Regions from separate parts of the Homo sapiens genome. Here region 1 is linked to region 2. Evidence: fine-mapped expression QTL. A gene starts in region 2. The other region holds a variant in brackets. All regions are shown on one strand. Distances are from middle to middle.

Region 1 (10,676 bases), 760 kb after region 2:
TGGGTGTATATGTGTATGTTTATTAGGCAGGGAAAGGTATAAGTGCCCAATAAGTAATTTAGGCTTGCACCTAAAAGTTAGTTGAAAACACTGTTCCTCCCATAATCAATTTTAAGAACTAAGGGGAAGAATATAAATTTGAAAATCTTGGTGCATTATATCTGAATTGTGACATTAACGGTACTTCATTCACTTCTAATGTTCTTTATTTTGACTTCACAGAGGAGAGTGAAAAAATTCCCTCAGAAATTCTTGTACAGACTGCTGATAAAATGATGCCATCAAAGAAAGGCCAATTGAAGATTGCTTGTATTATCCTCTTTTTTCATTGGTCCTAAAACCTTTTATCACATTTTAACATCTCTGAATTTGGGATGCATCTTAAGAATTAATAGCATATTATAGATTATTTAGCAACGTTTTTTCTCTTAATTATACTTTTAGTTGCATAACTCTTAAGGGGACATAATTCTTACTAGCAACCCCTGGAGTTGTGCTGTGTATACACTGAGTGCCCTTATGGGGCAGCCCTCATAGCGATAAGGTGGACATTCATTGTTTTTCCTACCTTTTAACCTCATATTTGACCTCACAAATTGTATAAATATCACCTGCCTACTATTCGGCAAGTAGTGACTCCTCCATAAATGTTGATTTACTTATTTATGCATCATTATAGTCAGTTTTGTTCCTTTATTTCCCAAAGCAGACTGAGAACAGGTTTGAATTCTTTCAGTACTGGATGTCATATTATTAAGAAGAGGTAGATCTTTAGATGATAAATATAGATGATAAAGCTAGGAAGTAAATGGCCAGATTAAATAAAGATGTTAGCCCCAAGTGTCCTAATTGTTTCCGTATGCTTTTTGCTTTTAAAACTTCTTTTAGTACTTTCAAGATACCTGAAATAACTAGTAGTGTGATAAAAGTACAATGCCAGTTATAGGTTACATTGTCTTAGTATACCTTCATCGATTATGTACCATGTCACAAGTGCTAGATATTAAAGATAAAAGGAGAAGAATAAAGCATGTAATTTCTACTCACATGAAATTATCCAGGATCGGCTGGGCGCGGTGGCTCATGCTGTAATCCCAGCACTTTGGGAGGCCGAGGCGGGCGGATCACAAGGTCAGGAGATCGAGACCGTTCTGGCTAACAAGGTGAAACCCCATCTCTATTAAAAATACAAAAAATTAGCCAGGCATGGTGGCAGGCACCTGTAGGCTCAGCTACTCAGGAGGCTGAGGCAGGAGAATGGCGAGAACCCGGGACGCAGAGCTTGCAGTGAGCCGAGATCGCGCCACTGCACTCCAGCCTGGGCGACAGAGAGACTCCGTCTCAAAAAAAAAGAAATTAGCCAGGATGATACATCAAGATATCAAATGTGTCTTGAAACTGAAGATGTGTATCCTGTTTAGTAGCACATGTTGGAACAGATCTCTTCACATTTCATTTCAATAGCTGAGTACTATTTATAAAATATTGTGCTGGCCCTCTGTAAGAAATAGAGATAGAAAAGCCAGAATCCCTCTTTACCAGGAGCTCACAGTATATAACAGGGAGGCTACGATATTCATAAGCAACTCTAATATTAGGCAGATTACAGTATGTACTTTGACATCATTCATATGTTATAGGATTTTAGGAAAATTTTATTTTTCAATGGGAAATTGAAAGTCCTTCACAACTAGTGATATATCATTAGTAATAAAAGTTCAATACTTAGAGATTGTTATAAACCACATTGAATTTTAAAATTTGAGACTATATACATTTTCTGTACTAAATACAACTTATCATTGCAATGAGAACCTCAATTTTTGTGCAAATTGTTTCTATAAGAATTTTTTTACATAAGGTTATGTAGCATGATTGTTTTGTTGAATAATATAAACCATTTCAAAATTTGGCACTTAAAAGGAATTAGTTTGTTGGATGTTTTTAACACATTCTGAAAACTGAAATACTTCAATTTCCAGTAATGTGGTGGTATTTATCAATGATACTTAAAATTGTTTTGCCTTTACTTTTAGTTCAAATGAAGCTAATCAAACATATAAGGAGCATTTAAAACCTGTCACAACCATTTAATATCCCTTAACTAATTATTTTCTTCTTTTGCTTTCACCTCCTCCACCAAATGATATATTCATTGTGGTATATTCATTTTACAACACTCATTGTTTAGGAGAAATAATGTAATAATTAATAATTGCACTTAACCTTTTAATAAGGTTTTACAGTTCATTAAACATTTTCACCTACATTTTATCTTTTAGGAAATATAATATGAAGTTAATGATTAGCAGTTTTCATTAAAAACCATTATTTCTGTTTAGATTTTTTACATTTTCTTAATTGCTTGTGATACTATTGACATTTGTTAGGTAGATCCTCTTACAGTGTCTGGCACATAGTGGGTACACCAAATATTAGTTAAATGACAGGGTGATCGATACATTTTTTGTTTTGACAAATATGGCAAGCTGATATTCTTATGGGCAAACCAATACAGTGGAATCTAGTGACTAGAGAAAATAAATACTTTTTTAAGACTCTAAAAAACTAAAACAAAAAATTTTAAAATTTTAAAGAAAATATTTAAAAATATATTTATGAAGATATGTGTCATATTTCTTTCAATGGATAATTTTAAGTGATATTAAATTATGTCAATAGTTTGAATAGCAATAGCAACCATTGAGCTAAAATTATGCAACAAATAGTTGCTTGTTAACCTAAGATATTTCAACATTTTTGAAAGATTAGTAATAAAACATGCCATATTTAAAAAGCCTTAATGTGAATCTTCTCTCCACTGTAGTTCAGGGGACACTCAGGATGCTAGAGTAATGCTATAAAAAAAGCCACTCAGACAGGTGCAGTGGCTCACACATGTAATCCCACCTACTCAGAAGACTGAGGCCGGAGGATCACTTGAAGCCAGGAGCTCAAGAACAGCCTGGGCAAAATAGCAATACCCTCCTCTCTAAATATATATAAATATATATATATAGATAATTAGTTGGGCATGGTAATGTGCCGGTAGCCCCAGCTACTCGGGAGGCTGAGGTGGAAAGATGGCCCAGGAATTTGAGGCTACAGTAAACTATCTCACTGCACTCCAGCCTGAGCGACAGAATGAGACTCCATCTTTTAAAAAAAAAGGCACTGAAATGACCCCATCAAATCCAACCAGCTATGCCAGGCTCTATTTCCATCCTATTTCTGAGGAGTTTTTGTCCTTGCTGGGTTTCCTTTGGCTTCATACCCAGATTCTGCTTGCCCTATATAACATGGATGGTCTGTCTGTCCTTTGTTCAGTACCTGCTCAAGATGCCACTTGCCCAGAGCTAGAGCCCACGAGGCAAGGGGCATCTCTTCTCTCACTGGTCAAAGGTAGGTGGTTGGAAGTGGATATTCTGGATTCATCTCTCCAGGCCCTTACTTCTAGGAAAACAAACAAACAAAAACAAGCAGTTTCTCTAAATTAATATGTTAATATAATTCTAAAAATTAGCACAGAAAAATTACCCATTTAATTTATAATGGTTTTTTAAGACATTTGGAAGGAAATATTTCTTTCATAATACTCAAACACTTAAAGGTTGAACATTATAAAGAAGCATCAGTATTATCAGAGATTTTTCAAGATTCTGTTAAATTCTAAACATCATCTAGAAAGTTCTTGTCTTATATCTAATACCTAACCTTAATGTCCCCTCCTTTGTTAAAACTTTTCTTGACTCTCTCTCTTCCCGTGCCTGTACAAAGACATGCATGTGCATGGGAACACACACACACATACACAAACACACACACACACTAGTAATCACAGCCTCCCTTTTGCCAGCATGTATATAACATAATTTTTAGCATTTTCCCACATTAAAGAAATAATTGAAAGCTTATATATTTATTCCCCAAAGTAGATATCTAATTATTTAAAAGAAAGGCTTATATTTAATGCATCTATGTTTTCAGGGCTTGAATAAAAGTCTGTTTAGCAAGGTTTTCTTTGATGGAATTATTTGATTCATACTGGAATCTCTGGTTCATTTTTCTGTTTACAGAAGTAAGTTCAGATTGTAGTATATTGCACAGATTGTCCAGGTAAACCTGGTTAAGACTTTCAGGGGAACTTATTTTTGCTGCTATTGTGATGTGGAAATGCTGTTACTACTTCAGTAACACTGATATAATGTATGTACTTATTAACAAGAAATGTGTAGATAGTAGCTCCAGTACTTGAAGCATCATTAAATTTGAATGAATTTTCTATTTGTAAATATACTCTGTCATAAATACCATTGAATATATTTCACTATGTAATAAATTTTAAAATCAAGGAAGTAATAAATCATAACATTTAATTTTAAGATTAAGAATATTGGCAAAGATTTGTTTATTTTTACCTGTCTTTATTCAAATGTTCTAATATACATTAGTTCCAAGTTCTCTATTACTTCTAAATAGAATATACATGATCAAAAGAGTATGCCTCTTTCTAAATGAGAAAAACTTTATATTATAAATCCAGTGATACGGATACTATCCATCATTTTGTTTTGTATGGCCTAATGTATATCAGTAAACTAAATAGACTTAAATGTGGCTGGATTTTGACTGGGAATATGGGAAGAACAAAGCAGGTGAGATCATGTATGTGACTAAATATAGCGTTGATGCTTAACGATGGCCTCTGAGCATGTTAGTGTAACTTATATTTTGCAGCCAAAAACTGTATGTATCAAGCTCCAACCATCTATAATAAAGTTTATGGTTCAGTTCTAAGATTGCTAACCAAGTGATTTTTTTTTCAGAGACGTTAAAGAAAAAGTACCTTCAACCAATAAATTCTTAAACATTTCATCAAATAGTTATTGAACAGCACTGTGCTAGGCACGTGGGATGTGAAAATCAAAGAACACATGACCCTACCCATAGCAACTCAGTGATAACAATGATAAAGGACTATGCTAGATTCCACATCGTACCTGGAGTGGGGGCAGAAGTGGTACATAATCCAGTTAGGGGGTGAAGTGGAAAATCCAGGGCAAGTTTCGTGGAGGAAGTGATGCCTGAAATGTATCTCAAATAAGTTAGCAGAGCTAAA[A/T]AAAAAAAAAAAAAAAAGAAAAAAAGAGTAGAAGTTAAAGGGAATAAATGGAACCGGGTGTAGAAGGGTATTCAGAACAGAAGAAATTATATAAGCAAAGACAAAGAAGCAAGAAATAGTATGCATGTTTGGGTTCAGGAGAAGATGGTTTGACTAGAAAGTTTAACATTAGAAATAAAATTATTCCTTTACAAAAAAAGAAATACTTAAAAGAATATGTTGGTTTTCAAAACAGATATAGTGATTTTTGCTTAGTTGCTTATACATCTTGAAACCAAAACTGGAGTTCAGCTATTTATTGTGTTCATTTTAGCATAAGCATTACAAAGTCCTTCTCTAGTTAATCAGGTTCACACTTTGCAACTAAGAAAACAGAAGTGGGCCAGGCACGGTGGCTCACGCCTGTAATCCTAGCACTTTGGGAGGCCGAGGCAGGCGGATCATGAGGTCGGAAGATCGAGACCATCCTGGCTAACACCTCATCTCTACTAAAAATACAAAAAATTAGCCGGGCATGGTGGCAGGCGCCTATAGTCCCAGCTACTCAGGAGGCCGAGGCAGGAGAATTGCTTGAACCTGGGAGGCAGAGGTTGCAGTGAGCCGAGATCGTGCCACTGCGCTCCAGCCTGGGTGGCAGAGAGAGACTCTGTCTCAAACAAAAAAAGAAAAAAAAAAAGAAAGAAACAATCTTACCACTACCATAGAAAATTGACATGTGTTCACATCCTTCTCCCTGTCTTTCAGAGGTATGAATTTTGTCTTAATGTTCTTTTCCTTTTCATTATAGTTTACTAAATATGCATATTTTTCTAAATAACATGTTTATTATATTGTTTGGTTTTGCTTGCCTTTACTTTTATCATTTTTTTTTTACTTCTGGAATTTGCTTTTTTGTGTACGACATCCATTTATATGTTTAGCAGTAATTCATTTTTACCTCTATATGGCATTTATCCACTTTACTGTGGATGAACATTGTTGGTTTGCTTTCTAATGTTTTTGCTATTATAGTATAAGATTCTTTATTTTTTTTGAGATGAAGTCTCCCTCTGCTGCCCAGGCTGGAGTGCAGTGGCACGATCTTGGCTCACTGCAAGCTCCGCCTCCTGGGTTCATGTGATTCTCCTGCCTCAGCCTCCTGAGTAGCTGGGATTACAGGTGTGTGCCACAACACCCGGCTAATTTTTGTATTTTTAGTAGAGACGGGGTTTCACCATCTTGGTCAGGCTGGGCTCAAACTCCTGACCTCGTGATCCATCCACCTCAGCCTCCCCAAGTGCTGGGATTATAGGTGTGAGCCACTGCGCCTGGCCTATAAGATTCTAATGAACATTCTTAGGCATGCCTCCTGGGCTTCAGATGCCTCCTGGTGCTCTAGAATCTATACTTATTAGTAGAATTGTTGGGTCAGCTTTACTGGGTAATATCAAATTGTTTCCCAAAGTAGTTGTATGATTTATTCTGATCACCCATACATGGCTATTCCTGTTGTTTCACACCCTTCTCAAATCTTTGTGTTATCGTTACTGTTTAATATTTGCTAGCCTGGATACTATAATATGGTATCATATTGTGGTTTTAGTTAGCATTTTCCTTATTACTAGTTAGGTTGTATATGTTTTCGTTTTTCATTGGCCATCTATGATTCCTCATCTGTGAATTGCCTATTTATGTGTATGCTCATTTTGTTATTTTGAAAAAATCTTTTTTTACTGACTTGTAGGTGTTATTTACATATTGCAAGTCACTCTTCCACTCTTTGGCTTGTCTTTTTAAAAATATTTTAAAACATTCTTAATTTTAGTATAGGAAAATATATCTTTTTTTATATGGTTTATCCTTTAACATATTATTTAAAAAGTCCTTACCTAGCCTAGGTGATACAAATATATTCTCCTTTTTTTTTCATGTGCCTTAGAGTTTTTCCTTTCACATTTAGGTTTATATTCTGTCTAGAGTTAACTTTTACGTTTGGAGTTAGGTATGAATCCAATTTCCTTTTTTCCCGTATTGATAATTATCCTGACCCTATTTATTTGAGAGATCATCCTTCTTCAATAATATGTGTTTTAACCACTAGAAATTTGTTTTTATGCTTATTTTGTGGATAGGCATCATTAATTTTTTTCAAAATGGTTAATCAGTTTTCCTAATAGCATTTTTAAAATAATACATTCTTTTTTCACTGATTTGAAGTGCCACCTTTAACACAGATTGAATTCTTACATTCTTGCCTTTATTCCTGGGTTTTGTTCTATTCCTTTCAAATGTCTATCTACATGTGCCAGTGCTATTCTTATATAATTATTGAGATTTTATAGAACCTGCAGTATTTGGAAGTGTCTCATTTTAATCTTCTATCCTCTTCCTTCCTCACTCACTAATTTGAAGTTAGAATTTTAGCTCTATTATACTGCCACTACCAACAAGTCTTTTCCCTCTCTCCTCTTTTTCCTCTTCTTTCCCCTAATTTCTGTCTATATTAACAAAATGTTACATTATAAAGATGATCATTTTTACATTATAGTGTTTCTTTTTCTAGAAGAATTCTTTTACATTTGCAAGCAGGTAAATAACCATAACAATTATTTGTCATTTTAATATTTCACCTCTCACTGCCAATCTTTTTATGCTGTCACTTCAGGCATATATGCTTAATTTTACTTCCTAGGCCATTGAAATAGATGATGGGCTCTAGAAGTAGTTAAGAGTGTCAGTTTAGAAGTACAGTGTTAAGATGGCGAATGGCAGGATATGCCAATTGATTAGATAAAGGCTAAAGGAGATGGAGGAATATAAGTGGTCTCCCAGGACCTCTCTACTCCATTGGATTGTAATGACAATTAAGAAGTGAGGTGAGCAGGCCTGAGATGGCTATCCTTAGAAAAGCCTGCCTGCAAAGCTGGCCTTTGATTATCATCTGGGAATTTGGATTTCAGGAAGGTTTCTGGAACCCTAACTGACAAAGAATGGCTCATTGGGCCCAAAATGATTGTGCAAACAATGTGGTCTTTGCTGAACACTTGCTTTCCTTCTGGAAGTCTGGATTCTTGGTAAGGTGCTAGGTAGGAAGTGGCTATGTGACAAGCCTCCAGTAAGAACCCTGGGTTCTGAATCTCTAATGAGCTTCCCTGGTACACAACTTTTCACATGTGTTGTCATAATTTGTTGCTGGAGCAATTACGCACATCTTGTGTGACTCTACCAGGAGACGATTCTTGGAAGTTTGTACCTTGTTTCCTCTGGATTTTGCCTTATGTGCCTTTTCTCTTTGCTGATTTAGCTTTGGATGTTTTGCAGTAATAAATCATAGCCATTAGTATGACTAAAGAAAATAAGAAGTGAGGTATGTGAAGTCACTTTAAAGATTTATAAAATACATGTAATGTGGGGGCAGCCAAGATGGCCGAATAGGAACAGCTCCAGTCTACAGCTCCCAGCATGAGCGACGCAGAAGACAGGTGATTTCTGCATTTCCATCTGAGGTACCGGGTTCATCTCACTAGGGAGTGCCAGACCGTGGGCGCAGGACAGTGGGTGCAGCGCACCATGCGTGAACTGAAGCAGGACGAGGCATTGCCTCACTCGGGAAGCGCAAGGGGTCAGGGAGTTCCCTTTCCTAGTCAAAGAAAGGGGTGAGAGATGGCACCTGGAAAATCGGGTCACTCCCACCCTAATACTGCACTTTTCCGACGGGCTTAAAATACGGCGCACCAGGAGATTATATCCCGCACATGGCTCGGAGGGTCCTACGCCCATGGAGTCTCGCTGATTTCTAGCCCAGCAGTCTGAGATCAAACTGGAAAGTGACAGCGAGGCTCGGGGAGGGGCGCCCACCATTGCCCAGGCTTGCTTAGGTAAACAAAACAGTCGGGAAGCTCGAACTGGGTGGAGCCCACCACAGCACAAGGAGGCCTGCCTGCCTCTGTAGGCTCCATCTCTGGGGGCAGGGCACAGACAAACAAAAAGACAGCAGTAACCTCTGCAGACTTAAATGTCCCCGTCTGACAGCTTTGAAGAGAGCAGTGGTTCTCCCAGCACGCAACTTGAGATCTGAGAATGGGCAGACTGCCTCCTCAAGTGGGTCCCTGACTCCTGACCCCCGAGCAGCCTAACTGGGAGGCACCACCCAGTAGGGGCAGACTGACACCTCACACAGCCGGGTACTCCTCTGAGACAAATCTTCCAGAGGAACGATCAGACAGCAGCATTCGCGGTTCGTGAAAATCCGCTGTTCTGCAGCCAGCGCTGCTGATACCCAGGCAAATAGGGTCTGGAGTGGACCTCTAGCAAACTCCAACAGACCTGCAGCTGAGGGTCCTGTCTGTTAGAAGGAAAACTAACAAACAGAAAGGACATGCACACCAAGAACCCATCTGTACATCACCATCATCAAAGACCAAAAGTAGATAAAACCACAAAGATGGGGAAAAAACAGAGCAGAAAAACTGGAAACTCTAAAAAGCAGAGCACCTCTCCTCCTTCAAAGGAACGCAGTTCCTCACCAGTAACGGAACAAAGCTGGACAGAGAATGACTTTGATGAGTTGAGAGAAGAAGGCTTCAGATGATCAAACTACTACGAGCTACAGGAGGAAATTCAAACCAAAGACAAAGAAGTTAAAAACTTTGAAAAAAATTTAGCTGAATGTATAACTAGAATAACCAATACAGAGAAGTGCTTAAAGGAGCTGATGGAGCTGAAAGCCAAGGCTCGAGAACTACATGAAGAATGCAGAAACCTCAGGAGCTGATGCGATCAACTGGAAGAAAGGCTATCAGTGATGGAAGATGAAATGAATGAAATGAAGCGAGAAGGGAAGTTTAGAGAAAAAAGAATAAAAAGAAACGAACAAAGCCTCCAAGAAATATGGGACTATGTGAAAAGACCAAATCTACGTCTGATTGGTGTACCTGAAACTGACGGGGAGAATGGAACCCAGTTGGAAAACACTCTGCAGGATATTATCCAGGAGAACTTCCCCAATCTAGCAAGGCAGGCCAACATTCAGATTCAGGAAATACAGAGAACACCCCAAAGATACTCCTCGAGAAGAGCAACTCCAAGACACATAATTATCAGATTCACCAAAGTTGAAGGAAATAATGTTAAGGGCAGCCAGAGAGAAAGGTCGGGTTACCCACAAAGGGAAGCCCATCAGACTAACAGCGGATCTCTTGGCAGAAACCCTACAAGCCAGAAGAGAGTGGCTTGTACTCTGTATTGGTTATTCTAGTTATACATTCAGCTAAATTTTTTTCAAAGTTTTTAACTTCTTTGTCTTTGGTTTGAATTTCCTCCTGTAGCTCGTAGTAGTTTGATCATCTGAAGCCTTCTTCTCTCAACTCATCAAAGTCATTCTCTGTCCAGCTTTGTTCCGTTACTGGTGAGGAACTGCGTTCCTTTGAAGGAGGAGAGGTGCTCTGCTTTTTAGAGTTTCCAGTTTTTCTGCTCTGTTTTTTCCCCATCTTTGTGGTTTTATCTACTTTTGGTCTTTGATGATGGTGATGTACAGATGGGTTCTTGGTGTGCATGTCCTTTCCAATATTCAACATTC
Region 2 (10,676 bases):
TCTGCTTCCTCAGAATTAAACAAGTTATACAGAAATAAACATATACTATGTTGCTGTTTCCAGATCATGTTAATAGCTATTTTACAATTTGATTATTAATAAGGTAACATTTTAATGTATTTTGGTTTCATGTATAAATTATTAAATTATTTGGATTTACTGGAGTTAGTGTGTAAAGCAGTTTTCATCTTAAACCATATGGTCTTTATAATAAAATAAATATGATGGAAATGACCCACTTTGTATATTTAACAGCATTTTCTGTCAAAGCAAGAGCCCATAGTAAAATGAAAATAGGACTAACTGCATAATAGCAGAAATCAGGAAAGCCTTTTAAAGCAATTTATTTCCTTTGAAAATGATTAAATATGAAACTGAAGTTAAACATGCGGAGGAAAGGGAAGTAGGAAACAAAGGTGAAAAAACAGAATGTCCTGATTCAAACATTATCCATAAAATATGGATATGTTTAAAGACAAATCAGAATACAGGACATTCTAGTCACAAATTTATCAGAAAAACTGAGCTACTAGCTAAACTTTAACAGAATCAGGAATCCCAGTGACGGCCCAAAATAACTAGCACAGTTTTGTAACAGTTTTCTAGAATAAAATTATCTACTTGAAACAACAGTTTATAATACATTTAGCAATGCTTTTTTACAGCACATGATATGACAAGTGAATGACCTGTATTACAGGATCTAATTCATGCAGTTACACAGGAAAACTATATATGTAGGAATAGATATAAACATGTATAGATATACTGATTGATTTATTTATAAAATTCATGGTTTGATGGTTCTTTCTGACCCTGCAGGATTAAGAATACAATAAACCTGATATGTTAATGAGGCCAAAAAGAGCACTATAATTGGTTTAACATATATCAATAACCCAGACAATTAAAAATCCTTTAAAGTACAGTCAAGTTTAGTGTAAGTGATATGTCTGAGGTAGGGAGGATCAAGAGCTAACTTCTAGAAGTCTTGCAGCACAAGAAGGAAAGTAAATATACCATAATATAATTGTACCAGTGGTTATTTTTAGAAAAATTATAGATCTTTCTAGAACTAATAGGGGGTGTTCCTTGGAGCATTCATACAGAAGATACTATCTTAACACCAAAAAAAAGGAGGGAAAAAAAAAGCAAAAAAGAGAGCATGACTTCTGACAGTTAAGTTTTATTTTTACTGTCAAAAAAATTAAAATTATATGACATTCTTGGTTATGAGAAAATGTCCTTTTGTAGTAATTATTAAAATCTTATCTATAATTAACAAAAATTAGTTACTTACCTTGAACAATAAAATACAACTAAGGAGACAATGACTATAAACAGAGTTGGCCTTTATGCATAGCAAGCAACTGTCTCTGTGGTATGGAGTTTCCCAAAATATCTCCCACATGGGCCTATTCTTGATGCCTGAAATTCCTTTGTAGTTGGTGCCAGTCCAAAATGCAAAGAAAACTTATAGAACTCTTCATCTTAATTAAGAACACTATTTATTATAAACTAGCTTTTTAGGTTCTTTGAATTCTTTATAATGTAACACATAGCTAGAACATGTTTGAAGAACATGTTGAAAATTGAGCTCAGAGACAAGGAAAGACAGGAATACAGATATGAATACAAAAGTCTGGTTTGAGAGGCAAGATGAAAGAGCAGGGTACAACCCTTGGGAAAAAGCGGAAGGTGCTACAAAAATGAGAGACAGGGATGCATAAATGGGGTTTTGTAAGGAAAATAAGGATAAACTTTTCCCTACTCTACATTATATAGGGCTGGTTTCTTTTATAACCAGCCCTACCCATAAAAGAGAAGTAATCTTAGAAATAAATTGTATGGTATCATTAGCTAAAATAAATATTTAAGACTTAATAAAAAAACTTTGATTTATATATTTATATTTAAGAACTAAAGTTTTCCCCCCAAAATAACCTTTACAGACTTGTCTTTCAATTTTAACATGCACTTATTATAGAAAATTTGAAAAATATTACAAAGTATATAGAAAGATTAAAATCATCTCTAATCCCTTCAGCCTGTAATACCATTGTTAACACTGGGGAGGGATGTTGACTTTTAGGTTTTATCTGAGTGTAAAAAATATATATAACAAAATTTGGATATTACATTGTTTCATATCTTCATTTTTATGTAATGTTATATTGTGATCATTTTTCCATGCCACTTAATACTCTTCATGGTTTTAAGGTCATGATGAAAACTAGTGGTTTCTCAGTGTTTGTTATTTTGGTGAATTCTTTTGATTTTAAACCTACTTTTACAGCAAACTAAGGAAAATTATTTGAAACTCCCCTCATCTGAAAAGCATATACCAAGCACTGAATGCAGTCAAGATTTCTGCTCTGAATTAAACAGTCTGAAAAATTTTCATTTCTCTTATTCAAAACATTTAACTGGGAAAGTAAACAAATAACTGTTAAAACTGAAAAGGGTCCAAGTGTTGGATCTCTGTTTGAACCAATATTGCAAAAGGTAGACACATGTCACAGTACTTATACTGTGTGTATAAAATACTGTTTGACGTTTAACTACAAGTGGCGTTTAGAAATTCTGGCCCCTTTAGGCCTAGGAGCCAAATTAGGCCCTTGGTTTAATATCATTCAGCTGGCCTTCAGACTTTTTTTTTTAAAGACACAGTGTCTATTTCCTGCCCCATCCTTCAAAGATAGGAGAGATGCACACGCACGTGTGTATGTGTGTGTGTGTGTGTGTGTGTATAAATATTAATTATTTGACAGAAGCATCCAGTGATGAGACTTGAGGGCTGTTCTTACTTCCATAGCATTATTTGGGAAAGAAGCAGTAATTAGTCCCTCTGATGACAAATTTAGCGCTAGAAGGAAGAAACAGAACAAGCCCCAAAGTGAATATGGTGAGAAAAAAATGAGAAGCTTAGGAGGACATACGGAGATGTCCAATCTATCCAGTACTGTACAAGGCACAGGCTGGGCAGATGTTAATTTCGGGATGAAGGAGTCCTTAAGGAAGCAAGTTGGTCAAGAGAGGAAAGGTTCAGAAAAAGAATAGGTGGACAGTAGATATCGGTTAGCCATAGAAGTCAAATGTGCTTTGGTATCCTAGGAAATTTGGTTTACTTAGAAGGAAGACCATACGTCTAAGGTTGAACAAGCAGGATTTAATTTTTATGGAGGACCTACTGTGGTTTATACCACAGTATATATGTTAGCTCATTTCCTTCTTCACAACATAAGTGCTATTTATTTTTCTTGTGCAGATGAGGATACTGGGAAATCGGAGTGATTAAGAAACTACTTCAAGGGTACACAGCTAGTAAATGGTAAAAACAAGATGCACATATAAGTCTTTCTGCAAAAACTGTATGCCTTTTCTACAATACCAAGGTGAATTAAATTGCAGAACTTAGTCTAATACTTTTAACCACATTATAATTTCATAAAGCAATCTACTTTCAGCTAACACAAAAGAAAGATACATTAAGTGAAAGAACAGTACAAGGGTGGGAAGACATTTAGAACAGCAATATCACTGAAAAAATTTAAACATAATTATAAATTATTTTCAGTAAAATAACAGTGCCTAAAATTTCAAAGCATTTCTAGAAACAATCTAAAGAGTGCTCTTTTTGTCTAATGAGAAACAAAGTTTTCATTATTTTCCTCTCAAAAGTGATTTGGTATCAATCATTAGAGTGATTCATATGAGAAAGTCTTTCTTCCTCCTCAAAAATAACCAGACAGTGTATTTTAAATTTCAAAGTAATTTTGATAGAAAGTATGAATTAAGTGAACTTAAAAGTTCCAGGGTTATTTTACTTTTAAGCAGTAACATGCCCTTATAAGGTGAAAAACAGTACATAGTACATTATACAGATATATTTTCTATTAGTATATTCAAAGAGTCAACTACAAGAGTAACAGATGATGTCTCATTTTAGTTACATTCTTGAGAGAATTCGTTTTGTTTAGGGTTTATTATTCAAAGCCAACACAGAATTTTTTATTTTACTTTCTAAAAAAGTTTTATTTAAATGGTGAAAACCCTACTTTAGGGTAATATAATCAAGATACATATAATAAGGAAAGTACTAATAAATAAAAGCTATACTATTGGTTTCCCAAAACGCAATGTTTTTGAACATCAGTGGAAAATGTGGATGCTTATTACGAAATCTTCAGTTCTGAATTTTGATTATGAAAAGTAACCACATTTGATCATCTTTTCAATGACTTTCACGTGATCCACGCTTTATGCTTTAGGGAAGCAAGAAAATGTTAGGTTATATAATTCAATTTTACTTAATAACGCATAATAAAATCTGGATTTAGAAAACAGAATAGGGGTTTATTTGCAGTACTGAAGGTTCGCTGTCTTTACAATAAAATTGACTTAAACATTCAAGTATTTGAACATCCTAGTTCCTTTAAATTAAGAATACTCAAGAGTTACCCGGTGGCTCACGCCTGTAATCCCAGCACTTTGGGAGGCCGAGGCGAGCGGAACACTTGAGATCAGGAGTTCGAGACCAGCCTGGACAGCATGGTGAAACCCTGTCTCTATTAAAAATACAAAACATTAGTCGGGCGTGGTGTCGCGCACCTGTAATCCCAGCTACTCGGGAGGCTGAGATAGGAGAATTGCTTGAACCTGGGAGCCGGAGGTTGCAGTGAGCCGATAGGCACTGCACTCCAGCCTGGGCAACAGAGCAAGGCTCTGTCAAAGAAAGAAAGAAAGCAAAGGAAGGAAGGAAAGGTAAGAAAAGAAAATAAAGAAATATACTCTTTAATATAAATTCACCTCATACTAGCAACTTAGGTATTGAACACCTGCAATATACGTAATCAAACTTTCCAATAATGAGAACATCTTGCACATCCACAGGTATTTCCAAGAATTGAGGCACAACGGAATAACATAAACCAAAAAGTCCACAAGGTGCATTGTCTGTCACACATACATTGTAAATTCAGTTCAAATGTTCATTCCCAATATTTCAACAACAACAACAAAATTTTTTAATAAAGTCATTCGTCAAAAAAGAGGCTGGCGCCTCCAAAATCAAGCTCCATCTAACTCCTGAGTCAAATAATGATATGAAGTACCCGAGACGGACCAATTTTTTTTTTGTCAATATTTAATCTGAGGCTTTGGAAGTGGAAGAAATCTTAAAATAGCCACTCAGTCTTGTTTCCAGCCTTCAGGCAGCTGAAATATAAACCCCAGGAACACAGACCCTCCCTTCAGCGAAAAGTGTATGTGTGTATGTTTGTGTTTAAAGGCCTATAGCAGTCAGAGATAGGATCACTGCCGTTTTAGCAGTTTAAAAAAAAAAAATTCTACTAGAGAGGAAAGAATGACACAATTTTCTTCGTCACAGGAAAGTGGGCCTGGGGTATCCCAGCCACCTTCGCAGACGCTAAGTTATGGAAAGCAGCCAAAATTCTGGTATCAGGATGAGGCGTCCCCATGGGTTCTATGGAAACGAGAGACGCGGGGGGCCTAGCGCCTTCCAGGCGGCGGGCCGAGCGGCAGAGCTGCGCAAGCAGAAGCGGGGGAAGTGGCTCAGCCCAGTACTGCAGAGGGGCGCTCGGTGGCAGTCCCCGCAGCGGCACGGGCGAAGCGTCGCGGGGTCTGCAGCTGCAGCCCACCAACTCCGGCGCCGAGCGCGAAGTCGGGAGAGCTGGAACGAACTGCAGCTGGAGAAAGCGCGAGAGCCAGACACCGCTGCCGCTCACCCCAGCCGCTTCCTTCCTAGCCTCACAGCCGGGAGGCAGAAACTTCGGAGGTACCGCCCGGCGAAGAAACATCCCCACAGAGACAGAATACACTGTGTCTTCCTAGCTGAGCCCCTTTACCTTCCCGGTGTCTGGGATGCTTCCTTCGGTGGCAGCGGCGGCAGGGGCGACGACTGCCGCTGCAGCACTCAACTGCTTCACGAATCCGGGCTCTGGGAAACAATTTCCCGCCGCGCGCTAGGCAGCCCCGGAAGCGATAGTACCATTTCCGGGTGGTTGTCAGTGACGCTCCGGAGCCGTCGCCAGGGTGGTAATACCTGGTGCAGAGCTTGAGTCTGGCCAGCGGGTCAGGCTCTTGCTAGATCAGCACCGGAGGTGGAAGACTGGTAAGTGATTTTACTGGGTTTTCTCCTGCGCCTGATATTAATGGCTGGCCGGGGCTCTGTGCAGCATTATGGCCAGCCCGAGAAGTGAGTGGGCGAGGGTGGAACCAGAAGGAGTCCCCATCAAACCCCGTGGCGCTTGACACCCAGTGCAGCTGGAGAAGGCCCTGGGATCCCGGCTTACCGTCTTATCCACTCGCAAAATCTGTCTCCGACTTGGAACTCGACCTCGGGTCACCAAGTGTCCCTGGGCGAGGCCGAAGACACCGTGTACCGTGACTCGGCGTTGTGCCGAGTTTCTCTACCAATGATCAACGAGTTTCCTATCTCCCATTGGCAGCGTTTGGCCACTCTTGATTCCTGAGTACTGTTTCCGTAGTTCTGGGGTGCCGTGCCTGGAAGGCAGGAGGTTGGCTGAAGAAGACATCTTTTACAAACATTTAGGAAGTGAGATGGGGAGGTTCCTTCCTGATTTAGAATTAATTGAAGGTTCCTCCCGCCATTTGAATTGGATGAGAAGAACGGTCTTTGTTTTCATGGCTGAGACATAAGAGAACAAGCTTGTAATTTCATGCTTGGGCATTAGATGCATTTTTGGAAAGCAGTGATCAGTAAGTATGTGTGCTTTCAGAAAGGAATGCTTGCGTTCTGCTCCAGGCTTTGTCGATAATGAAGGATTCAGGAGAATTTTGGATGGAGGTCTGAGGTAGCCAGAATAGTTGTAAAGAGAAATTGCTTCCGACAAAGGGATAATGTGAGGAAAGGTGCTCATTTAAGATTTGAAAGATGTGATGTAGTGAACCTTGGCGACTTCTCTTAAGTAATGCAATTTCTTAGGTAACTAGTTTTCACTTGCCACCTTATATTTAGATAATTACCTCCCCACCAACCCCCGTAAAAGGCAGCTGACTGTTATTTTTTCAAAACAGTCAGTTCCCGAAAGAGTTGTAGGTACTATTGCATTTTTTTTATGGGTATGCTCCTCATACCCATAAAAACATTTTCTTTATCGGAGCATACCGATAAAGAAAAATGCAATATGTTCAATTCAAGGCCCCTGTTAACACCAGGCCAGTGTCTTCTTAACCTTTTGAGAGTAATGCAACAAACCATATTTAGGACAGCACATTGATTTTCTGGCCTTGTTGGTTAATAATTCAACAAACTTATAATCGCCCCATTAATCCCAATCTTGACATTTTGTTGAATCTTGTATTTTTTCTTTATTTCTCCAGTTGAAAGTATTATAAATTACTTCAGGGATATTATGTATTATATCTGTACAGCAACTAGTTTTTAGAGGCAGTGATTTCTCTCTTTGAATTGCTCTTGAATGTAGCCAATCATTAATACTTACCCCAAGTAGATACTGTCTGCCAGGCACTTTACATTTATTATTTTATTTAATGTTTAATAAAAAAAGAAAATCACAAAAATTGTATTATTTCTATTTTGCAAAACATTTTATACTGAGACCCAAAGAGGTTGTGATTTTCCATAAATTATACAATTAAATGGCACAATTAAAATTTGAATCCAGTCTACCTGACTCTAAATTTTGGCTCTTTTTACTGTGCTCTATACCTTTATAAGTAAACATAACAGTATCATTATTTTCACTCCAGGTAAAAATGGATAGATAGTATGTCACATTTAGAAATCAAGTGGATAGCAAAACTTGAGGATAAAAGGGACTTAAGGGATGTGTTCATCACCATAAGGTAATTTTGACATCTAAATAATGCAGTTTCTTTAGTGCCTTTATCCTTGGCCAGTTTTATTATCCTAATTCAAACAAATGCCTATACTGTACATTAGCATAACACTTGGGGCAAATGCAGAAGATCTGGAGACCATCAGCAAGCATATTGGTGACTGAGTCCAGAGTATCAGCTAACTATCTCTTTAGACAGCTTTTCACACACACATTTGTATACATGTATATTTGTGTGTGCATGTGTGTGTGTGTGTGTAGGGAGAAAGAATGAGTAAATGAGCACAAATTCATAAAATTCAACTTTGTAATGATTTATAAGGAATTATTAGCAAAACTGTGCTGTTCCACTCACGTAACCCTCAAACAGATGGGGATTATCACATAGTTTCAGGAATATGCTTTATTAAACCTGCCCATCCCAATACCCAATTCTATATAGAGAAACAGAAATAGCCTAATTTTCAGAGAATTTACAAAAATTTAGTTGAAATGACCAATACTAGAAATGACATAGAAGTTAATTCTAAAGAATATCCTGTTTTACAACTGTATAGGTATAGCTAGCCTGAAATACTAATGTGTATTTGATTACATTGCATTGACTTGTAGGCAGATCCCGTAGGCAGATCTCAGGGATATTTTGCTATCAAATTTCAGTGCTTATGAAGTTTGGGATTATGTCTGTTTTGTTCGTCATCTCAAACCCAGCATCTAGCACTGTGCCTGGCGTGTAATAGAAGCTCAATAAATAAGTCAGGAACCATGACTCATGACTGTAACCCCAATACTTTGGGAGGCTAAGGCAAGAGGATTTGAATCCAGATCCTCTAAATTTTGGCTCTTTTTACTATGTTCTATACTTCCTTTAATAAATAAACATAGGTCACAGTGAACTATGATCATACTACTGCACTCTAGCCTGCACAACAGAGTAAGACCCTGTCTCTAAAAAATAAAAAATAAGCATTTATTGAATGAATGATTCCTTTTTAAAATGTTATTTATCCACCGAGAAGTATTTGTACATTTTTTAAAGGATTTACCACATAAATAAATATTTATTTTTACTCACCTTGCCCCTGAAATACAGTGTCCACTCCACACTCATTCATAAAAGGCAATGTGCTGTCCTGCAAAGAAGACTGGACTGTGAGACAGGAGATGAGAGAATATCTAATATTTTTCTGTGTTTATTCTCTGCTATTCAGTGTTAAATTACTCCTTACAGCACAGTGGGTAAGTATTATTATCCTCCTTTTACAGATGCTAAAACTGAGGCAAAGATAAGCTTTGTAAATTGTCGTAGGTTACGCATAGTCATTAAACACAGCTATGATTTGAATGAAGGGCTCTGATCCCAAAAGCGATAATCTTAACCACTTTGCTAGCCTCCAGTTGAATTTTTAATCCTGGTTCAGCTGCTAAATGTGTGCAAAAGCTCTGGGTATCATGTTTCTCATCTATAACATATAGGAGTTTGATGGATTATATTATCTGTAAGGTCCCTCCTACCTCAAAAATCCTCTGACTTTAGTTGACTCCTAAGTATTATCTGAATATAGCAGTTCTGGAGTGCCAGAAAACCCTCATCAATTTTGATGTGTTTTATGTAAGCTTTTATATGTGTTCACGTCTTCCACATTGGTGGACACACAATCATGTTTTTGCAATAGGAAGAATAGAGTTAAAAAAATCACAGCCATGCTTTTTTTTTTTTTTTTACCAGCTATGACACTAATAAGTCACTGAACCTTTGTGAGCTTATGTTTTCATATGTAAAATGGATCCATAGGATTGCTGTGAGCGTTAAGTGGGTTGACTTATAAAGCCTCAAACGTGTTGTCTGATACACAATTGCTGATAAATAAATATTGATTCTTTTTCTTGCTCAGTCTTGCAAGGATAAAAGATTAGTGGATATGAAAAATGCTTTATAAATTAGACAAAGGTGAAGAATATTTTCACTTACAGTCTACTAGGAGAGAGAAAGTTATATAAACAAATAATTATATGTAGGGCAATTTACATACATCATTGAACACAAAACATGGGAATGCAAAGAAAAGAGATTTTTTTTTTTCCAGGAGGGCAGATGAGGAAAGACCTCATAAAAAAGGTAATATTGAGTTTGTGCCATATAGGATGGAAAGGATTTTGGCAGGGGAACAAGAGGGACAAGTGTTCTACTGGAAGATGCAAAGGTGTCAGAAAACAGAAATAGTACCTAGGTCACTTTGGCTATGTAAGATGGATGAAGGCTGGTAATAAAGCTGAGGTAAAAAGCTGAGTTTAGGACAAGCTGTAGATAACTGTGGGCAAGTTAGAGATGTTAGGCTTTTAACGATAAGCAATAATCTGTGTGTATAACTAGGATGGGGTGGAGGATGGAGTTGGCATTTGTTTTCTTTGTTATGGAAAAACGCCCATTTGTTACAGAAACATTAGAGTGTACAAATATGCCAAAAAGGAAAGAGAAAGGAAGAGTGGCCCATGACCCCACCACTCAGAAATAACTTATGATTTTTCTCTGTATTACAGATTTGCATATATGTGCTTTTAAAATAAAAATGAAATAATACTGTCTATATTGTCTTGTGACCTGCTTTTTTCAATGTGCTATACCATGAATTTTTCCATGTCAATAAATTTGCTTCTATAAAATAATACTTAGGGCCTGTATGCTATTCAATTTTATGAATATGTTATAACTTTTAAACTGACTTCTTTCTGTTAAGTAATAGTACAATAAAGGTTTTTATAGTAAAATATTTAGACATATTCGTATCTATTTTCTTATTACAATTTGTAGAAGGAGAAATGGTCACCCAC

Alleles and levels. Positions count from the first base shown, and alleles are read on the strand shown. Sizes are in standard deviations (SD) of each study's normalised expression.
For the expression in CD4 T cells of the gene that starts at base 6,029 in region 2, allele A in region 1 goes with a lower level than allele T (large effect, 1.5 SD a copy in BLUEPRINT).

Evidence for each region. PIP is the estimated chance that this variant, and not a neighbour inherited with it, causes the effect.
Region 1: its variant is fine-mapped to the expression of KIAA0825 in CD4 T cells (BLUEPRINT, PIP 0.95).

Annotation. Positions count from the first base shown.
Region 1 is chr5:93,855,769-93,866,444 of GRCh38, reverse strand. All of the region lies in intron 7 of ARB2A (ARB2 cotranscriptional regulator A), which reads left to right. Among named protein-coding and RNA genes, the nearest start is that of POU5F2, 120 kb to the right of the region's middle. The variant A/T (reference allele first, on the strand shown) is at 5,120.
Region 2 is chr5:94,613,957-94,624,632 of GRCh38, reverse strand. It overlaps KIAA0825, which reads left to right and starts at 6,029. Exons shown (of 21, transcript NM_001145678.3): 1 at 6,029-6,133. It overlaps SLF1 (SMC5/6 complex localization factor 1), which reads right to left and starts at 5,964. Exons shown (of 21, transcript NM_032290.4): 1 at 5,868-5,964. RefSeq lists enhancers at 5,243-5,352, 5,743-5,922, 6,233-6,412, 6,151-7,015.